Homo sapiens: one gene and its partners. The protein of the gene in region 3 purifies or fractionates together with the protein of the main gene of each other region. This does not show direct contact. Each region holds a gene or a part of one and is shown on either strand. Other genes may lie near its edges. The genes, in order: ACTR10, CUEDC1, NEXN, MYO1D and PZP.

The links.
Region 1: the proteins of NEXN (region 3) and ACTR10 purify together in Homo sapiens (affinity purification with mass spectrometry; 2 studies listed by BioGRID and IntAct, with this or other methods). This does not show direct contact.
Region 2: the proteins of NEXN (region 3) and CUEDC1 purify together in Homo sapiens (co-immunoprecipitation; one large-scale study listed by IntAct). This does not show direct contact.
Region 4: the proteins of NEXN (region 3) and MYO1D purify together in Homo sapiens (affinity purification with mass spectrometry; one large-scale study listed by BioGRID and IntAct). This does not show direct contact.
Region 5: the proteins of NEXN (region 3) and PZP fractionate together in Homo sapiens (co-fractionation; one large-scale study listed by BioGRID). This does not show direct contact.

The regions. Positions count from the first base shown.
Region 1 is NC_000014.9:58,206,570-58,210,230, reverse strand, and holds part of ACTR10 (actin-related protein 10), read right to left. Parts: intron 2,296-3,661; coding exon 2,213-2,295; intron 1,233-2,212; coding exon 1,124-1,232; intron 1-1,123. UniProt on the Homo sapiens protein: Part of the dynactin complex that activates the molecular motor dynein for ultra-processive transport along microtubules.
Region 2 is NC_000017.11:57,885,913-57,889,573, forward strand, and holds part of CUEDC1 (CUE domain-containing protein 1), read right to left. Parts: intron 1-3,661.
Region 3 is NC_000001.11:77,894,963-77,898,623, reverse strand, and holds part of NEXN (nexilin), read right to left. Parts: intron 1-3,661. UniProt on the Homo sapiens protein: Involved in regulating cell migration through association with the actin cytoskeleton. Has an essential role in the maintenance of Z line and sarcomere integrity.
Region 4 is NC_000017.11:32,762,094-32,765,754, reverse strand, and holds part of MYO1D (unconventional myosin-Id), read left to right. Parts: intron 1-673; coding exon 674-877; intron 878-3,661. UniProt on the Homo sapiens protein: Unconventional myosin that functions as actin-based motor protein with ATPase activity. Plays a role in endosomal protein trafficking, and especially in the transfer of cargo proteins from early to recycling endosomes.
Region 5 is NC_000012.12:9,205,504-9,209,740, forward strand, and holds the start of PZP (pregnancy zone protein precursor), read right to left. Parts: upstream 2,893-4,237; 5' UTR 2,839-2,892; coding exon 2,756-2,838; intron 1-2,755. UniProt on the Homo sapiens protein: Is able to inhibit all four classes of proteinases by a unique 'trapping' mechanism. This protein has a peptide stretch, called the 'bait region' which contains specific cleavage sites for different proteinases.

The DNA of each region.
Region 1 (3,661 bases), on a different chromosome or scaffold from region 3:
GATATTCAATCAAAATATGACAGTCCATCATAATCGAATGGCAGACAAAATAATGGCTGTATTCCCCTTATCTAAATAAAGTAGGTATTCTAGTCATATAGAAGATATTAACACAAACTCTAATTATAAATACAGAGAATATTCTACTTTATTCAGATAACAGCTGACACGACTTCTTGTTTTGCTTTATGTTCTCCTTACTACAAATGAAATTCCTGGACTCATGACATCAGTAGGTACTGGAGGCTATGCAACCTGATTCCCTGTACCTGCTTTACAAAAATATAACTTAGAAATATTAAGTGCCTTTACCTCATAAAGACATTGTGATTTTTGGTATTAGGTATGTTTTGAATTCAGTAAATGTATGAAAATACATTTATATGTGCTTAATTTCTTATTCACTTAATACATATAATCTTACATTTTCCCTTGCTGATAAAACCTAAATTTTAAGGCAAAGATTTTTAAAAATTTGAATAATTAAGATTCTGGTCTACTATGAAATATACTAATCTTAAAACATATTCTTGGTGATAAAATAATCCTGATTCCTATAAAATCAAAGCTACAGGTAATATTACTTATATTATGAGGTAAGTCTCATTCCTGGCATTACCAACTTACTCTAAGGGAGGCACTGAATATTCCATTTTAAAGGAATTTGAAGCCTAAAATGACAAAATTCAGAACAGTACAACTAAACAATGGAAGCTAGAAAGATCTGGAAGAAATACATTGCAAAGTCCACAGCACAGAATATACCTTTTAATTCTGAATAAAAAAAAGTCCCCAAATAGAAAAACCTATATTAAAATAAATAAACAGTAATAAAAAGAAATATCCAATTATGTAAGTGTTGGATGAAATGCTAAAGCATGAAATAACCACACAAAGGAAGAAAATAAATGGCCAGTTTGAAGAATCTTCTGTCATCTGGTTCCCCAACTACACTGTGTGCCATACACAATATGAGACAAAATAAGGGCTTTTATTAGTTTAAGTTTTGAGTACCTACCAACAAAAAAAAAGAGAAGAAAGATTCCCTAAAAATTGGTAAGAATTTTATTGCTTCTCTTTTTATTTCAAAAGCAATTTACTTATTTGATATAAAGACAGGTACCTCAAAATATTTGAAAAGAACACGAGTGAGTGTCTCTCTGAAGTGAGAAGGACATAATACCGATTCGATAATCACAACTCGGCGGTCTCTGGGATTCACCAATAGATGCCTGAAAAGTGAAAGTTTTGGTTTTAAAAGTAAAAGTTTTTATTCATTTTGTTAAGTCATACAATTTAAGAACAGTGAAACTGTACTACCTTAGCTTAAGATATTTTATCACAAAAAGACATCTTCATTTTATTACCCCAGAAAGATAACATTTCTGACCTCTTACTATGTACCGTGCAGTGTGCTAGGAAATTCATTAACTTACTTATCTCAGAAACCTAAAATTATAGCCTACTATGATTACCAACTTGAGCCATTATATAGATTTTTTTTTTTTTTTTGAGACAGGATCTGGCTCTGTTGCCCAAGTTGGAGTGCAGAGGGGCAATCTCACCTCACTGCAACCTCAGCCTCCTGGGTTCAAGCCATCCCCTGATCTCAACCTCCTGAGTAGCTGGTACTACAGATGTGAGCCACAGCACCTGGCGATATTTTCTTTTTTTTTAGGTTACAATAGTAATATATGCTCACAAAGCTCCAAATATTATGACACGTAAAACTTGCAAAGTACAAGAACCTTATATCTCTACTACTCAGAACTATCACTGATAGAAGTTTGTATTTTTTTTCATTCTTATGGATGTATGGGGGTATGTTTTAACAGAAATACTCATTCCATAGATGTGGTTCTTTAACTTGCTTATTTCACTTATCAATATATCCCACACACCTTCCTGTACTACTACATACAGATGCAGAACTCTTTTTAAAGAGCTGCATGGTATTTCACTGTATGAATGTAGAATAATTTAATTATCAGTTCACTTCATTAATGAATATTTCATTTTCAGTATCTCTTTATGTCTGCCAGTTTTCTAGTCTTCAAATATATTTTTGAAAAGGTTGAAAATAAGCATGTAAAAATGGCAATAGAAGTCCATTTTTTTTTTTTTTGGCCTCAGCTGTAACACAACCAATTATCACTATGGCATTAGGAAAATCTATCTAATCATAAAAGCTAGAAAACAAAATGTATCTTACCTGAAATATAGTATGTGGATGAATTCCTTTAGGTAGGAATATAATTCTTCTGTATTGATATTATACTGAACAACTCTGACAGGCTGTAAAAAATTAAAATGATTTATTAATTTATATTAATAAAATAACCTCAAATTAAGATTAAAATGTAATTATTTACTAATACATTTTCTGGGAATAAATTAAAAGCAATCTGTATTGAGAATATAAAAATTAAATACAGAGTAATCTCTTAAATTAGGAATCCTTAAGAATCGGAATGTCTAAGATGGCAGAATGTTTTAGTCTGTGGTAATGGAAGTGTGTGTTCATAGGAAGTAAAGAGCATGGCTCACATGCATTTTTCCTCCATCTGACTTATCATTTTGGCTTGAATGATAAAAATCAGCTTTGAGGCCAGGTGTGGTGGCTCATGCCTGTAATCCCAGCACTTTGGGAGGCCGAGGTGGATGGATCACTTGAGGTCAGGAGTTCGAGACCAGGCTGGCCAACATGGTGAAACGCTGTCTCTACTTAAAATACAAAAATTAGCCAGGCGTGGTGGTGTGTGCCTATAGTCCCAGCTACTCTGGAGACTGAGGCAGGAGAATCACTTGAAAACCCTGGAGGAGGCTGCAGTGAGCTGAGATGGCTCCACTGCTCTCTAGCCTGGGCAACAGAACCAGATTCCGTCTCAAAAAACAAACAAACAAACAAACAAACAAATTTCCAGCACTTTGGGAGGCCGAGGCAGGTGGATCACCTGAAGCTAGGAGTTCAAGACCAGCCTGGCCAACATGGTGAAACCCTATCTCTACTAAAAATACAAAAATTAGCTAGGCGTGGTGGCGTGCACCTGTAGTCCCAGCTACTCAGGAGGCTGAAGTGGGAGAACTGCTTGAACCCAGGAGGTGGAGGTTGCAGGGAGGCAGAGGTTGCAGTGAGCCAAGATCGTGCCACTGCACTCCAGCCTGGGTGACAGAGTGAGAACCTGTCTCAAAAAAAAAAAAAAAAAAAAATTCAGCATTGAATAAAAAGCATCAAAGGCTTCCTCAAATACTCAACTTGGTTCAGTCCCTGTTAGTCCAAAAACACTGATATCTTCTCTTTTGCAACATCGCCACACTGAATTACTTGTAAAATGTCCCCCTTTCTGCTAGATTATAAGCTCTATGCACAAGAACTATTTCTGGCTTGCTTATGATATATCTTTCTTCAAATAATACAGTTCCAGGTACATAGTTGTGGTTGTTCATAAATATGTGTGATAAAAATGACAACAAACACCATTAGCACAAAAGCAGCCTACACACATATTACCAAGCCATGAGTGCTAAGTCAATGCTAATATATAACAATGGCTTCACTTATGATCCTCAGAAAGCTCTCAGTACTCTGATGCATCATTGGCAGACCTCTCTTCATTTACTCTTTCAAAAGAAGTACCATCAGCCTAATTTCTTGATTTTA
Region 2 (3,661 bases), on a different chromosome or scaffold from region 3:
CTAACAAAACATGAGCTCAGGGTGGCGGCCAAGGGCTACTAAGAAATGAGGGCAGGGAACCGCGACCCCTACCACGGGCAAGGGAGGCTTGCTTCTTCCTCATGCTTTCTCCCCGGCTTCAGTAATGAAATCCCCACAGTTCTTTACTAGCACAGGACAGCCACCAGTTAGCAAGGGATTCCTCCGACCCAGGTGCCATCCTAAGTGCTCTATGTGGGCCAACTCATGACAATACTGTAAGGTATGTGCTAGTATGCCCATGTTGCAGATGGGAAAAGTGAGGTATAGACGCTGAGTTAGTGGAGGAGCCAGGATTTGAATCTGGGACATATGGCCCTCAAGTCACTGGTCTCTACCATTACACATACTGCCAAAGACCCCTGAAGACCTGAGTGAGGCAGGAGGGGCTCTTTAAAGATGTCCTGCCTCTCTGATCTCTAGTCCCTGTTCTCATCTTCCCACATCACTGCCCCAACATCGTGGTCCCACCACCAGGGCAGGAATCTTGTGCAGAGCTCCATCGAACCCCGGGGACAGCAGTGATGAGAAGCGGGACCCTCCAGTGTCACCGGGAGCTTCCAGCCTGAGAGAGGAAACAGGGTTTCATCCTTGCAGAGCCTCGGGCTAATAGGGGAGGCCCAGTTCCCACTCTTGGAAAACTCATGTCAGGCCCTAAAACTCAGTCCATTCCCCTGAGAAGCACCAGCCCAAAAGAGAGATGCAAGGCCATTGTCAACCCCTGGAGTTCATTTTCCTTACCCCAATGTCAGGCCGACATGTTTTATTTATATCACAGACACGTTTGTTCTTATGGAACACTCAGTGTCCTTACATATTTTTAAAAATTCTAGAAGTTTTTTCTCAAAGTTGTCTTGAGAAACCATATACATCATAAATTCTGGTTGTTTTTTTTTTTTTTTTTTTGAGACGGAGTCTCGCTCTGTCACCCAGGCTGGAGTGCAGCGGCACGATCTCGGTTCACTGCAAACTCCGCTTCCCGGGTTCACACCATTCTCCTGCCTCAGCCTCCCGAGTAGCTGGGACTACAGGCGCCCGCCACCACACCCGGCTAATTTTTTTTTGTATTTTTAGTAGAGACAGGGTTTCACCATGTTAGCCAGGATGGTCTCGATCTCCTGACCTCGTGATCTGCCCGCCTCGGCCTCCCAAAGTGCTGGGATTACAGGCGTGAGCCACCGTGCCCGGCCATAAATTCTGTTCTTATCCCCACCAAGCCCAGTTCTCCTGCCCCAGCCAATGTGTGTCCCTCAGCCCCCAGGGTCAGCACAGTGTCCTGACAACATGTATAGGTGGAACTGAAAATCAAGCACAATGAGGGACCTTAATCTGCCACAGAAAACCACCCGGCCCACTCAAACCCAGGCATGTAAATCACTGCCAAGGTTGCATTTCTGTTAGCACAGACCACTGGGAATGGAATGCGCCTAAACACCAACTTCTGACAGTGGCAGCTTTATTTTAAGGGACAATTCCATCAAATAATATCCTTGAGTTTGATGAAACAGGTGCAAACTTGTTTTCACTTTTCTAGGACTTGGAGTCACAATCTTAACAGCTGATACAGAAATTTTTTTTTTTTTTTCGGTCTCACTTTGTCGCCCAGGCTGGAGTACAGTGCTGTGATCTTGGTTCACTGCAACCTCTGCCTCCCAGGTTCAAGCAGTTCTCCTGCCTCAGCCTCTCGAGTAGCTGGGACTACAGGTACACGCCACCACGCCTGGCTTTTTTTTTTTTTTTTTTTTTGTATTTTTAATACAGATGGGGTTTTGCCATGTTGGTCAGGCTGTTCTCAAACTCCTGACGTCAGGTGATCTGCCCACCTTGGTCTCCCAAAGTGCTGGGATTACAGGCATGAGCTTCAATGCTTGGCCAAGATGTTTTTGTGAGTACATCAACCCCTGAGAAAATCTGTTCACACTTTAGTGTGTCTACATCTCGATTTTTTCTTTTCTTTTTCTTTTTCTCTTTTTTTTTTTTTTTTTTTTTTGAGACAGAGTCTGGCTGTAGCCCAGGCCGGAGTGCAGTGGCGTGATCTTGGCTCACCGCAACCTCCACCTTCCAGGTTCAAGCAAGTCTCCCATCTCAGCCTCCTGAGTAGCTGGGACTACAGGCACGTGCCACCACGCTTGGTGCTAATTTTTGTATTTTTAATGGAAATGGGGTTTTACCATGTTGGCCAGGCTGGTCTCAACCTCCTGGCCTCAAGTGATCCACCTGCCTCAGCCTCCCAAAGTGCTGGGATTACAGGCGTGAGCCACTGCGCCCGGCATTATTTTTTCTTTGCATATACCACCATAAATGAATTTATTTTACTAAAATGTAATCAAACCATAAATCCTATGCAACTAGTTTTTTCCACATAATAAGATATTGTGGCCATCTTCCCATGTCAGAATACGTAGGGCTACGCCATCATTTTTAGTGCCTGAGTAGCATTCTGTTGACTGAGTGAAGCATGATTTATAATCCAACTCCCTCTACCCCATCTCTTCCCAGATGAGCAAGTCAGAGCCCAGAGACGCCCAAGCCATTTCACAAGAAGACACAGAGGGGTGACTTCAAATGATCAGTCCAAGAGTTTTGCTGTGAGAAGGAACATAGGAAGGTAGCCAAGTATGACATGGCTTCCCATAGCCGGCTTTAGACACCCCAACACCCCTACACCCACATCTCCACGAACCCACACACATCAGAAGAGTATGCAGCTTCGCCTGGGCTCCACCCTGACAGCTGCCTTTGTCCTGGGCTCTGGGGACCTGCCCTCAAGCCTCTAACACAGACCTCAGGGCCAGGAGGCCCCAGAAGCTGATGCCTTGGGCTACTGTCTGCTGTCCTAGTGTCATCACACACAGGGGTCAGTGACTTGTGTTAAGGCCTTCTGGAGTAAAGCCATCATCTCTCTGCCCCTCCAGTAATTTACTAACAGAGATGGAGGGACCCAGGTCTCACTCTGCCAAAGGCAATCCCTCGGAGAAAGATGACCTGGGCCACCCCCAGGGGAGGAAGAAAGAAGATGGCAAGACCGACATTTTCCCCATTAGCAGCCCTCTGGACAGCTCCCTCGGGTTCTGGGCCTCTCTGAGTGTTGAGAAGCTCCAGAAGCCTTGCACTCTTGCCACTTATAGGGAACACGCACCAGTTCAGACAAGGCCTCCGCACTCCCCAGCTGTGGGACCTCAGACAAGTCTCCCATCCTCTCCGTGGCCCTAAGCCCTCATCTGGATGTATCCCTTAGGGGGTTTCAATGGGAATGAAATAAGATAATCCTCAGCACACTGCCTAGAACGTGGCTATGCTGCATTTGAGTTATCATTGCCCCAGGAGGCTGGTAAAGAGCCAGGAGCAGTGGGTAAATTGGCCAAGCTGCCCTCACAGGGGGGATGGGGTAGGGAGATTCTAGGGGGGTCTTCCCCAGCACCTGGATGTCAATCCCTGGAATTCTTTCAGCCCTCTGTAAGGAAATATTGATCCTCATGGCCCCAGGGGAGGCTGGGCTGGCCTGGGCAACTGGAGACACAGCAGCTCAAGCAGCCGCTTCCATTTGGCCCAAGTGCAAAGCTTTGAAAGCATCCTTGTGGGGACCACAAAATGTAAAGGACTGACAACTCCAGCCCAGCCCCACACCCTGCCTCACATTACA
Region 3 (3,661 bases):
TGTTTTAGACATGAAGTCCTTGCCCATGCCTGTGTCCTGAATGGTATTGCCTAGGTTTTCTTCTAGGGTTTTTATGCTTTTAGGTCTAACATTTAAGTATTTAATCCATCTTGAATTAATTTTTCTACAAGGTATAAGGAAGGGATCCAGTTTCAGCTTTCTACATATGGCTAGCCAGTTTTCCCAGCACCATTTATTAAATAGGGAATCCTTTCCCCATTGCTTGTTTTTCTCAGGTTTGTCAAAGATCAGATAGTTGTAGATATGTGGCATTATTTCTGAGGGCTCTGTCCTGTTCCATTGATCTATATCTCTGTTTTGGTACCAGTACCGTGCTGTTTTGGTTACTGTAGCCTTGTAGTATAGTTTGAAGTCAGGTAGCGTGATGCCTCCAGCTTTGTTCTTTTGGCTTAGGATTGGCTTGGTGATGCGGGTTCTTTTTTGGTTCCATATGAACTTTAAAGTAGTTTTTTCCAATTCCGTGAAGAAAGTCATTGGTAGCTTGATGGGGATGGCATTGAATCTATAAATTACCTTGGGCAGTATGGCCATTTTCATGATATTGATTCTTCCTATGCATGAGCATGGAATGTTCTTCCATTTGTTTGTATCCTCTTTTATTTCATTGAGCAGTGGTTTGTAGTTCTCCTTGAAGAGGTCCTTCACTTCCCTTGTAAGTTGGATTCCTAGGTATTTTATTCTCTTTGAAGCAATTGTGAATGGGAGTTCACTCATGATTTGGCTCTCTGTTTGTCTGTTATTGGTGTATAAGAATGCTTGTGATTTTTGCACATTGATTTTGTATCCTGAGACTTTGCTGAAGTTGCTTATCAGCTTAAGGAGATTTTGGGCTGAGACAGTGGGGTTTTCTACATATACAATCATGTCATCTGCAAACAGGGACAATTTGACTTTCTCTTTTCCTAATTGAATACCCTTTATTTCCTTCTCCTGCCTAATTGCCCTGGCCAGAACTTCCAACACTATGTTGAATAGGAGTGGTGAGAGAGGGCATCCCTGTCTTGTGCCAGTTTTCAAAGGGAATGCTTCCAGTTTTTGTCCATTCAGTATGATATTGGCTGTGGGTTTGTCATAGATAGCTCTTATTATTTTGAGATACATCCCATCAATACCTAATTTATTGAGAGTTTTTAGCATGAAGCATTGTTGAATTTTGTCAAAGGCCTTTTCTGCATCTATTGAAATAATCATGTGGTTTTTGTCTTTGGTTCTGTTTATATGCTGGATTACATTTATTGATTTGCGTATATTGAACCAGCCTCACATCCCAGGGATGAAGCCCACTTGATCATGGTGGATAAGCTTTTTGATGTGCTGCTGGATTCAGTTTGCCAGTATTTTATTGAGGATTTTTGCATCAATGTTCATCAAGGATATTGGTCTAAAATTCTCTTTTTTGGTTGTGTCTCTGCCAGGCTTTGGTATCAGGATGATGCTGGCCTCATAAAATGAGTTAGAGAGGAGTCCCTCTTTTCCTATTGATTGGAATAGTTTCAGAAGGAATGGTACCAGCTCTTCTTTGTACCTCGGTAGAATTCGGCTGTGAATCCATCTGGTCCTGGACTTTTTTTGGTTGGTAAGCTATTGATTATTGCCACAACTTCAGAGCCTGTTATTGGTCTATTCAGAGATTCAACTTCTTCCTGGTTTAGTCTTGGGAGGGTGTATGTGTTGAGGAATTTATCCATTTCTTCTAGATTTTCTAGTTTATTTGCGTAGAGGTGTTTGTAGTATTCTCTGATGGTAGTTTGTATTTCTGTGGGATCGGTGGTGATATCCCCTTTATCATTTTTTATTGCATCTATTTGATTCTTCTCTCTTTTCTAAATTTTTTTTTTTTTAATTAGACAGAGTCTTGCTCTGTCACCCAGGCTGGAGTGCAGTGGTGCAATCTCAGCTCACTGCAACCTCTGCCTCCCAGGTTCAAGCAGTTCTGTGCCTCAGCCTCCCGAGTAGCTGGGATTACAACTGTCTGCCACCACACTCAGCTAATTTTTGTATTTTTAGTAGGGATGGGGTTTCACCATATTGGCCAGGCTGGCCTTGAACTCCTGAGCTCCACCCGCCTCGGGCTCCCAAAGTGCTGGGATTACAGGTGTGAGCCACCATGCCCAGCCTTCTTGATGGAACTTACACTGTAGTGGGGCACAATTGCAAGAGGTTTGGCCAATTTGATTTGGAGGGGTAGAGGTGAGGAGAGGAATATTGTCAAGAATGAACCCAAGCAAGAGTCAGAGGATGAGAAATAAACAAACAAACAAGTAAATAAAAAAGGATGAACCCAAGGTTTCTAGTTTGAGCAAATGGGTGAACAGGGTTACCATTAACTGGAGATTAAATTAAAAGGCATGTTTAAGTCAGAAAATGAGCTCAGTTTCTGAGTCACTGTGCTTGGCCGACAACTTATTTATTTATTTATTTATTTATTTATTGAGACAAAGTCTCACTGTGTCACCCAAGCTGGAGAGCAGTGGTGTCATTTCTGCTCACTGCAACCTTTGCCTCCTGGGTTCAAGCAATTCTCCTGCCTCAGCCTCCCGAATAGCTGGGATTACAGGCACATGCAACCACACCTGGCTAATTTTTTTTAGTACAGACAGGGTTTCACCATGTTGGCCAAGCTGGTCTCCAACTCCTGACCTCAAGTGATCTGCTCACCTAAGCCTACCAAAGTGCTGGGATTACAGATGTGAGCCACTGTGCCCAACCAGGCTGTCAACTTTTAAGATTTCTTTTTTGAGATGGAGTCTTGCTCTGTCGCCCAGGCTGGAGTGCAATGGCACTATCTCAGCTCACTGCAACCTCCACCTCCCAGGTTCAAGTGATTCTCATGCCTCAGCCTCCTAAGTAGCTGGGATTACAGGTGTGCACTACCACACCCGGCTAATTTTTGTATTTTTTAGCAGAGATGGGGTTTCACCATGTTGACCAGACTGATCTCTAACTCCTGGCCTCAAGAGATCCGCCTGCCTTGCACCCCCAAAGTGCTGGAATTACAGGCGTGAGCCACAGTGCCCAGCCAACTTTTAAGAAGATTTTAAACGTAATACTTAACTATATGCTACAAGTAAATGTTGAAACCTAATTCTTACAGTCTTTGGAACAAGCAACAAAATTGTTTTGAGCTTCATAAAATATGAGCCTAAATTTTTATCATTTTTCACTTGTACAGGAAACATAAACTTAGGTATAATGTAACTTTATTGCATTTAATTAATGAAGGTTGCAACCTTATACTTTAAAAATTACACTATAGGTGACCGGGCGCGGTGGCTCATGCCTGTAATCCCAGCACTTTCAGAGGCCAAGGCGGGCGGATCAAGAGGTCAGGAGATCGAGACCATCCTGGCTAACACGGCGAAACCCCATCTCTACTAAAAATACAAAAAAATTAGCCAATCATGGTGGCGGGTGCCTGTAGTCCCAGCTACTCGGGAGGCTGAGGCAGGAGAATGGTGTGAATCTGGGAGGCGGAGTTTGCAGTGAGCTGAGATTGTGCCACTGCACTCCAGCCTAGGCAACAGAATGAGACTCCATCTCAAAAAAAAAAAAAAAAAAAAAAAAAAAAAAAAATTACACTATAGGCTGGCCATGGATGGTGGCTCACGCCTGTAATCCTAGCACTTTGGGAGGCTGAGGC
Region 4 (3,661 bases), on a different chromosome or scaffold from region 3:
CAGGCGCGGTGGCTCACGCCTGTAATCCCAGCACTTTGGGAGGCCGAGGTGGGTGGATCATGAGGTCAGGAGGTCGAGACCATCCTAGCTAACATGGTGAAACCCTGTCTCTACTAAAAATACAAAAAATTAGCTGGGCGTGGTGTCAGGCACCTGTAGTCCCAGCTCTTCAGGAGGCTGAGGCAGGAGAATGGCGTGAACCCAGGAGGCAGAGCTTGCAGTGAGCCAAGATCGCACCACTTGCACTCCAGCCTGGGCGACAGAGCGAGACTCTGTCTCAAAAATAAATAAATAAATAAAATAAAAAGTTTAAGGAAAACAAAAACTATAAAAGCATTAGAGGAAAGCATCAAATGCTCATAAACCCTTTGGAGTAGGAATGGTCTAAGTATGACACCAAAGAAAGAGAGACCCTAAGGCAAAAGATTCATAGATTCGATTACATAAAAATGTAAAACTTTTATCTATCAAAAACATACACTGAAAGCAAAAAGATAGATGAGTGTCCGGAGAAAGGGAAAAAGTAGATGAAACACTGTTTTTATATGTTGAGATGTATAATGTATTTAGGAAAATAGGTACAAACAAGGTCACCTGAATTGTATTTTATATTGGCAAATATATCCTTGACATAATGTTTCATAATGTGTTATTTTTTTCACTTTTGATACAGGGAAATTTAAAATTTGTAGTAGATGGTGACACGCCTCTTATTGAGAATGGCAAAGTAGTATCTATCATAGCAGAATTGCTCTCTACTAAGACAGATATGGTTGAGAAAGCCCTTCTTTACCGGACTGTGGCCACAGGCCGTGACATCATTGACAAGCAGCACACAGAACAAGAGGCCAGCTACGGCAGAGACGCCTTTGCCAAGGTGAGAGTGTAACTGACCCTATGTCACCTGGTGTTGATCGCAGTTGCAAATTGAGTGAAATCCTGTGAGCATGTATTCAGACATTCTTGAAAGAGGGTTAAGGCTTTTAGAAACCATAATGATACTTTCTGGCCATACAAGCCTCGGTAAAACTCCCAGATGTAAGTAAGCATCACTGCCAAAAAAGGTTCTGAGAAGAGTGGAAGCTGACTGGGGGTGGCGCTCATGAGGGCTTCACGTGCTGCTTCTCTCACTCAATAATGCTTCGCCAGAGTCAACTGACTGAGCTCTGATCCATTTTTTTTAAGTTTTATTTATTTTTAATTGACAATAATTGTATATGTTTATGGGTACAGTGGGATATTTCAGGACATGTACACATTATGGAATGATCAGATCAGACTAATTAGCATACCTCTTACCTCACCTACTTACCATTTATTTGTGGTGAGAACATTTAAAATCCACTCTTAGCAATTTGAAACAATATTATTAGTATTATTATTAACAGTCACCACGCTTTGCAGTGGATCACCACAAATTATTCTTCCTGTCTAACTGAAACTTTACCCTTTGACTAACGTCTCACACTTTCTCCATCCACCCCGCTCCTCTAGCCTCTGGTAATCACCATTCTATTCTCTGCTTCTATGAGTTTGACTTTTTCAGATTGCATATAGGTGAGATCACACAATATTTGTCTTTTTGTGCCTGGCTTATTTCACTTAGCATAATGTCCTCCAGGGCTGTGTACTAAGCCTGCAGTGATAGTACCACAATTTATTTAACCACCTTACTCTTAAGTCACCCACTTTACTTCCCTTTTTTGCAACTGCAAACAATGCTGCACGTCTTTATACATCTATGCTTATATACTAGTGCTTTTGTTTCAGCTGGATGGATTCCCAGGAGTGAGCTTGCCAGGTCAAAGGGTATACTTATTTTATTTTTATTTTTTGAGACGGAGTCTTGCTCTGCCATCCAGGCTGGAGTGCAGTGGCACAATCTTGGCTCACTGCAACCTCCACCTCCCGGGTTCAAGTGATTCTCCTGTCTCAGCCTCCCAAGTAGCTGGGATTACAGGAGTGTGCCACCACGCCCAGCTAATTTTTGTATTTTTAGTAGAGACAAGGTTTCACCATGTTGACCAGGCTGGTCTCGGACTCCTGACCTCAAGCGATCTACCTGCCTTGGCCTCCCAAAGTGCTGGGATTACAGGCGTGAGCCACCGCACCTGCCATATATTTATTTTAAACTTTAAATTTACTGATTTTATGGCTGCATGGTAATATTTTATTGTTACTTTTATTTCATTACTAGTATATTTGAGCATCTTATCATATTTTTGTAGAGTATTTTAACATATTCTAAGAATTGCCTGGGTATATCTTTTGTGCATTTTTCTTTGGAGCTGTTATCTTTTTATTGTCAATTTCTAAGTGTTCTTAGCATATCATAAACTTTAACCCTTTGTTATCTGTGTGGCAAGCGTTGTATTTTCTCACGTCTAACTTTCGTTGTTGTTGTTTTGCTGGTTGATTAGTTTACTGTCTATTTCATTTTTTACTCTTGTAAGTCTTAGGCTTGGTTTTTAGTTTTGGGGGAATTTGAATTTTTCCTAAGTGCAATGGAGAGCAATAGGGAGGACTTTAAGGAGGGGCAATGACATCAAGTTTGCCTTTTTTTTTTTTTGAGATGGAGTCTCGCTTTGTTGCCCAAGCTGGAGTGCAGTGGCACAATCTCAGCTCACTGCAAGCTCTGCCTTCCGGGTTCATGCCATTCTCCTGCCTCAGCCTCCCAAGTAGCTGGAACTACAGGCGACCGCCACCACGCCCAGCTAATTTTTTATATTTTTAGTAGAGACAGGGTTTCACCATGTTAGCCAGGATGGTCTCCATCTCCTGACCTTGTGATCCACCCTCCTCGGCCTCCCAAAGTGCTGGGATTAGGTGTGAGCCACCGCACCCGGCCGTTTTTTTGTCTTTTTTTTTTTTTCTTTTTTTTTTGAGACGGTGTCTCTCTGTCACCCAGGCTGGAGTGCAATGGTATGATCTCAGCTCACTGCAACCTCCACCTCCCGGGTTCAAGCAATTCTCCTGCCTCAGCCTCCTGAGTAGCTAGGATTACAGGCACCCGCCACCATGCCTGGCTAATTTTTGTATTTTTAGTAGAGATGGGGTCTCATCATGTTGGCCAGGCTGGTCTCAAACTCCTGACCTCAGGTGATCTGCCCACCTCAGCTTCCCAGAGTGTTGGGATTACAGGCATGAGCCACTGCACCTGGCAAGTTTGCATTTTTAAAATGATCACTCTGGCCTTAGTATGGAGAATGTTATGGGGGCTAGAGTAAGAATGGAAGCAAAGAGGTCAATTAAGGGGATATTTTGTTAATCCAGGAAAGAGATGAGGGCAGCTTGAATCAGAAAAGTGAAAGTACAAATGGGGAGAGGAGGATGATTTGAAATGGACTGTGTTGAGAAAATAAAATCCATAGGACCTATTATGTGGAGAATGAGAGAAGCAAGAATAATACTTTAACATGGTCTGGCTCCAGCCCACCTCTCCCACCTCATTTTATACTATACCCAGCCCCCCTTTCTTCAGCCCAGCACATTAGTCTTCTCTCAGTCCTCACAGATTATCCTGATCCCTTTCTCCTTCCAGTCACAGGGCCTGTGCACATCTGTTCCCTCTGCTTGGACTGCTCTTCTCTCCTCTCTTGCTTGGCTACCTCTTACTCATCCTTCTGGTCTCAAGTATCACTTTCCCAGAGAGGCCTTCCCT
Region 5 (4,237 bases), on a different chromosome or scaffold from region 3:
GATCCTCATCAGTCCCCAAAACTTGAATCCATAACAGATAGATAAAATCCCTGCCCCCATGCCAAATCAGTAAAATCAGTAAATTGTGACTAAAATGTAACTCTTCAAAGCTTTAATGATTCAGTGATTCATGATTCAATATCTGCAGGGTTAGGCCATTTATAGAGTAAATTTGCAAGTAAAAACTATTATTTTCTTATATTATTTTACTACCCTTACTTTCCATTGCCAACATAAACTCTTACTTTTTAAATTGTTTTCTGGACAGGCAATTTGACACAAGAAACCCAATATTGTTGCTTTACAAAATTAATAGGTGTGAGACTAGGAGGAGAGAATCCAAGGATAATTGAGTTGTGGAATGTGGAACTCAAATTTGGTCCCCTCATCCTCCATGTAGTCTGCTCCAGCACACCAGTCTTGCTACATGTGTTTTAAAGTGTTCCTGGGCAAAACTATATGCCATGAATCTCCAGGGCCACTCTGAAATCATCCAAGTTTCAGATGATTTTACTGTATGAGTAGTAAGGTTTTGTTCTCTAGCAGAGAAGCTGAGGGCAGTTCAGTAACTCACTGATAGTCATTCAGCTAGTCTCTTATGTCTTAATCTTTTTCTGGTATCTGGATGCTTCTGATCTCCTGATCACTGCTCTTTTAACAGCATAATAAATAATAAAAATGTATCATTTTTTACATCCCCATCAAAAAATTTTTCCTTTAGTTCTTTGATCTTAATAAGAAGGTATATATATATTTATAATTTATTTACTATTTTTATTCTTATAAATTATAAGCCTAAAAGATATCACGATTAAAAATTAATTCCACATATATTTGATATTCTAAAGAACTATTTTATATGAGTTCAGTTAATATTTTTTTAACAGATATTGAAATCAGAACAAATCCAGGTTGACAAACTTGCCCAAGATGTCATTGGTAGTGAGCTGCTAAAATGTTTTAATATATGTTTACTCAATCATGAATGTTTGCATTTTAAATATTTGCCTCTTTAGCAGGGACTAAATGTAGCAAATATTAAAGTGATAACTTTTAATTTTCTCTTTTTCATTTTATTCCCCTGAAACCTTCATCTTTCTGAAGCTTACTGCCCCAAGGCAGGGGAGAATGGCTATTGGTTCTCTTTTGTAGTCTCTCACATTTATCACATCAAGGGTTAATTCTGGAGGGATGAAGTTAAGTTTTCTCCTTATAAAGGGAGAAAACACCCCTTCTGCTTGTGACAACTAGGGCATGAGGCTTGTTGTTCTTTGTTCAGTGGCAGACACAACGTAAAAGGATGGTTTCAATGGCAGCATGGTCCAATGTAGTGTAGGAATGCATCCAGAACCACAAATTGCTTAATGTTTCTGACCCAATACACGCTACTCGCTTTATCCATTCAGTCTGCTCTCAGAAAGCAAAATAGCCTCCACATATTCCCATATGCTTTCTGGATGGAGAGCAGCTGGAAGTAGTAGAGCCCACTGCTGTAGATGAGGTAGAGGGATAGTGGGGGAGAAATGTACCCCTACCGGTTGCCAGGAAATTGTGCAAGGAAAAAGCCTGAGGAAAGCAGGAGACTTACTGGATTGAACTCCTTATTTCTGCTTTCTGCGCTTTGGCCTGAAGAAGGCTATTTGTGTTAGATGGATAAGGGTAACACACAGAGCAGAGGGACCCCTTATCCCTTTCCCGATTTGGGACTCTGAAGACTTCCCTGTATCAGTCTGGAATACAGGAGACACGATAGGCATCTAGAAGTGCAGTGTGGGTATGCAAGAGAGAGGTAGAAGTTTAACCTCTCCAGGACACCTCAGTGCCTATGTGCTATTATTGGACCCAAGAGTTCTCACCATTCTCTGGAAGAAATGTAAAGGCAGCTGGGTTAAGGCCAGGGACCTTAAATGGCCTGGACTGCAAAGGGGCAAGGTGACCCTGCATCACAGGCTGTGTTGAAACAATAGCCATAGTATTTGAGGCAGGATGCAAAGGTAGGAGTTCTATGGGATATGAAACAGCTGAAGTGAGACAGTCAGTTAGAGAGGACTGTTGGGTCCTGAACACACAAGAGAAACCAGATGGCTAAACTTCAACAGTGCATGCCAGCAAGTAAGGAGAAGTCAGACTGACAGTAGCCAAGAAGGACGGAGAACTTTGAGACCAAGGACTCTGACAGTTTTCTCTATTAGGAGTTAATGGAGACCACAGTTCTCTAGACACTATAGAGGAGAGGAACTGGGGAGAGGTGGAAAAGAAGTCTTACAATTATTGAGTTGTACCAACTTACAACTGGATAGGGTTAAAATTATTTTCCCTGCTTTGGTCCCCCACTGGGGGCTGTTGGTGAAGACTTGATACATGATTGAAAAATAAAGGAGCTATACTTTCTGTATATATATATATGGCCTACAATACATGTTAAGTTGCACTTCACTATATATTTCGAATATCTCTATATTCAGTGCCTTCCATCCAAAAGAACTGTTCTGTGAAGTTGGGATCTAGTGTTTTATTTAATCATGCTTCCTAGTGACTAATCGTATTTATGACTCTGATTGGCCCAGTGTAGAAAAAATGATTTCAAGAATAGAGGATAAATGAAAGACAAACAAGGGATTAACTGGAATAATTTCTTATATTTGGAAGGTATTGTAATGAGTGGAAAGGTGGCATTTACAAAGGAAGGCAAAGCGAAGACACAAGGGAGAGACTGAAACGCACTCTGGAGGAAGGGGTCTTGAGTGAGACTTACGGTTCTGTAGAGTTTGAGTCACTGGCAGAAAGCAGGATAAGAAGTAGCACAAGACATAAATGAAGAAGTCTGTCTTTCCGCATTGTGAGGGATAAATCTCAGGGTTGTGTCCAACTCTCTGCCCTCAGCCTCGCCCTGGAGACCAGCTGAGTTTACCAGGCTTTATGTGGCCACTATGTACAAACAAGCCCCACCCCAAGGCCTCTGAATAGAGTTCAGAATTGAGCACAGATTCCCTAAAAGGGTCATTACTCTCAGTGGTTGCCTCATTTTTCTCAAGGCTAAATTCTGATAGGTACTGAGGCATGTCTGGAAGATAAAATTTGTATTCCATTTAGAATGAGCTTTGACAGCAAACCTCCTGATAAGGAACCTTCAACCTACCTTTCTCCATCTCTTTCAAAATCCTTACAAGCAGGTGACAAAGGATGCTGACAAAGAATGTCAGGGACATGTTACCATGATAGTAGCTCATGCATTGCAGATTCATTTCTGGGACTGAGTGAGTTATAACTATAGACTTTAGGGTTTTTGGGTTTTCTTTTTTAGCAGTTGATTGAGTACATGGTCCTGGAAGAAAGTGATATAAAATAAGGATTTCAAGAGTAGAGGATCAATGAAAGATAAAAGAGATAAAAGATCAAAGAGATTTTAGAAAGGAGTTATCAAAGATCACACTTGTCTATTTCACAGCATTGACCTGATCAGATTCTTAGTTGATCCTATCTGTCCTTGTTACTGTCTGAGCACTCTAACGTTTGAGTCCCTTAAACCATGTCATTGACTTTATCTGAGATTTTTTTTTTGAGCCATACTGTGTGCTAAGTGCTATTCTGGTGATGAAAATACAATATTGAACAGGATATTCAGTATCCATGCTCTCATAGAACTTGTAGTACAATGATGATCACATATAAACCACCAGCAGATTTAATGCCATCCTTAGACTGCAGACATTGGTGTCTGTTTACATACTGTATTGCTTGAAACTTTTTAAATCAACTTTCTTTCTCTTTCTCCATATTTCAGCCTAATCATCCCTTCTTTGGAGAGCAAATTCCTGGCCACACTGCTGAAAGTGGATTCCTTCCTATTAGTTTTTATTTCACATCTTTGTTTCTTTTGTCACATTATCATAGAATGAAATAATTTCTTTTAAATTATGAAATGTTATATATATATATACTCACAAATATAGAGAGCAAGATAAAAGACACTCGTACCTTACATGCACCCAACTTTAATAAAATTAAACACTTGCCAAGTTTGTTTAAGGTCATTTCTTCTTAAGAAATGAAAGATGGCAATGGTAGTGCTCTTTTAAAATTTGTCTAGAAGCTTTTCCAGTTTTTACCAGATCCACCAACCCAAAAAAAGAAATAAATCAAGACAAATATGGTTGGAGTTTCCTTTGTAATTCTCTCCAATCTCATTTCCCTTCCAATGTTGTGGGATTAGGAAGTTGATATGTATTCTTCAAGA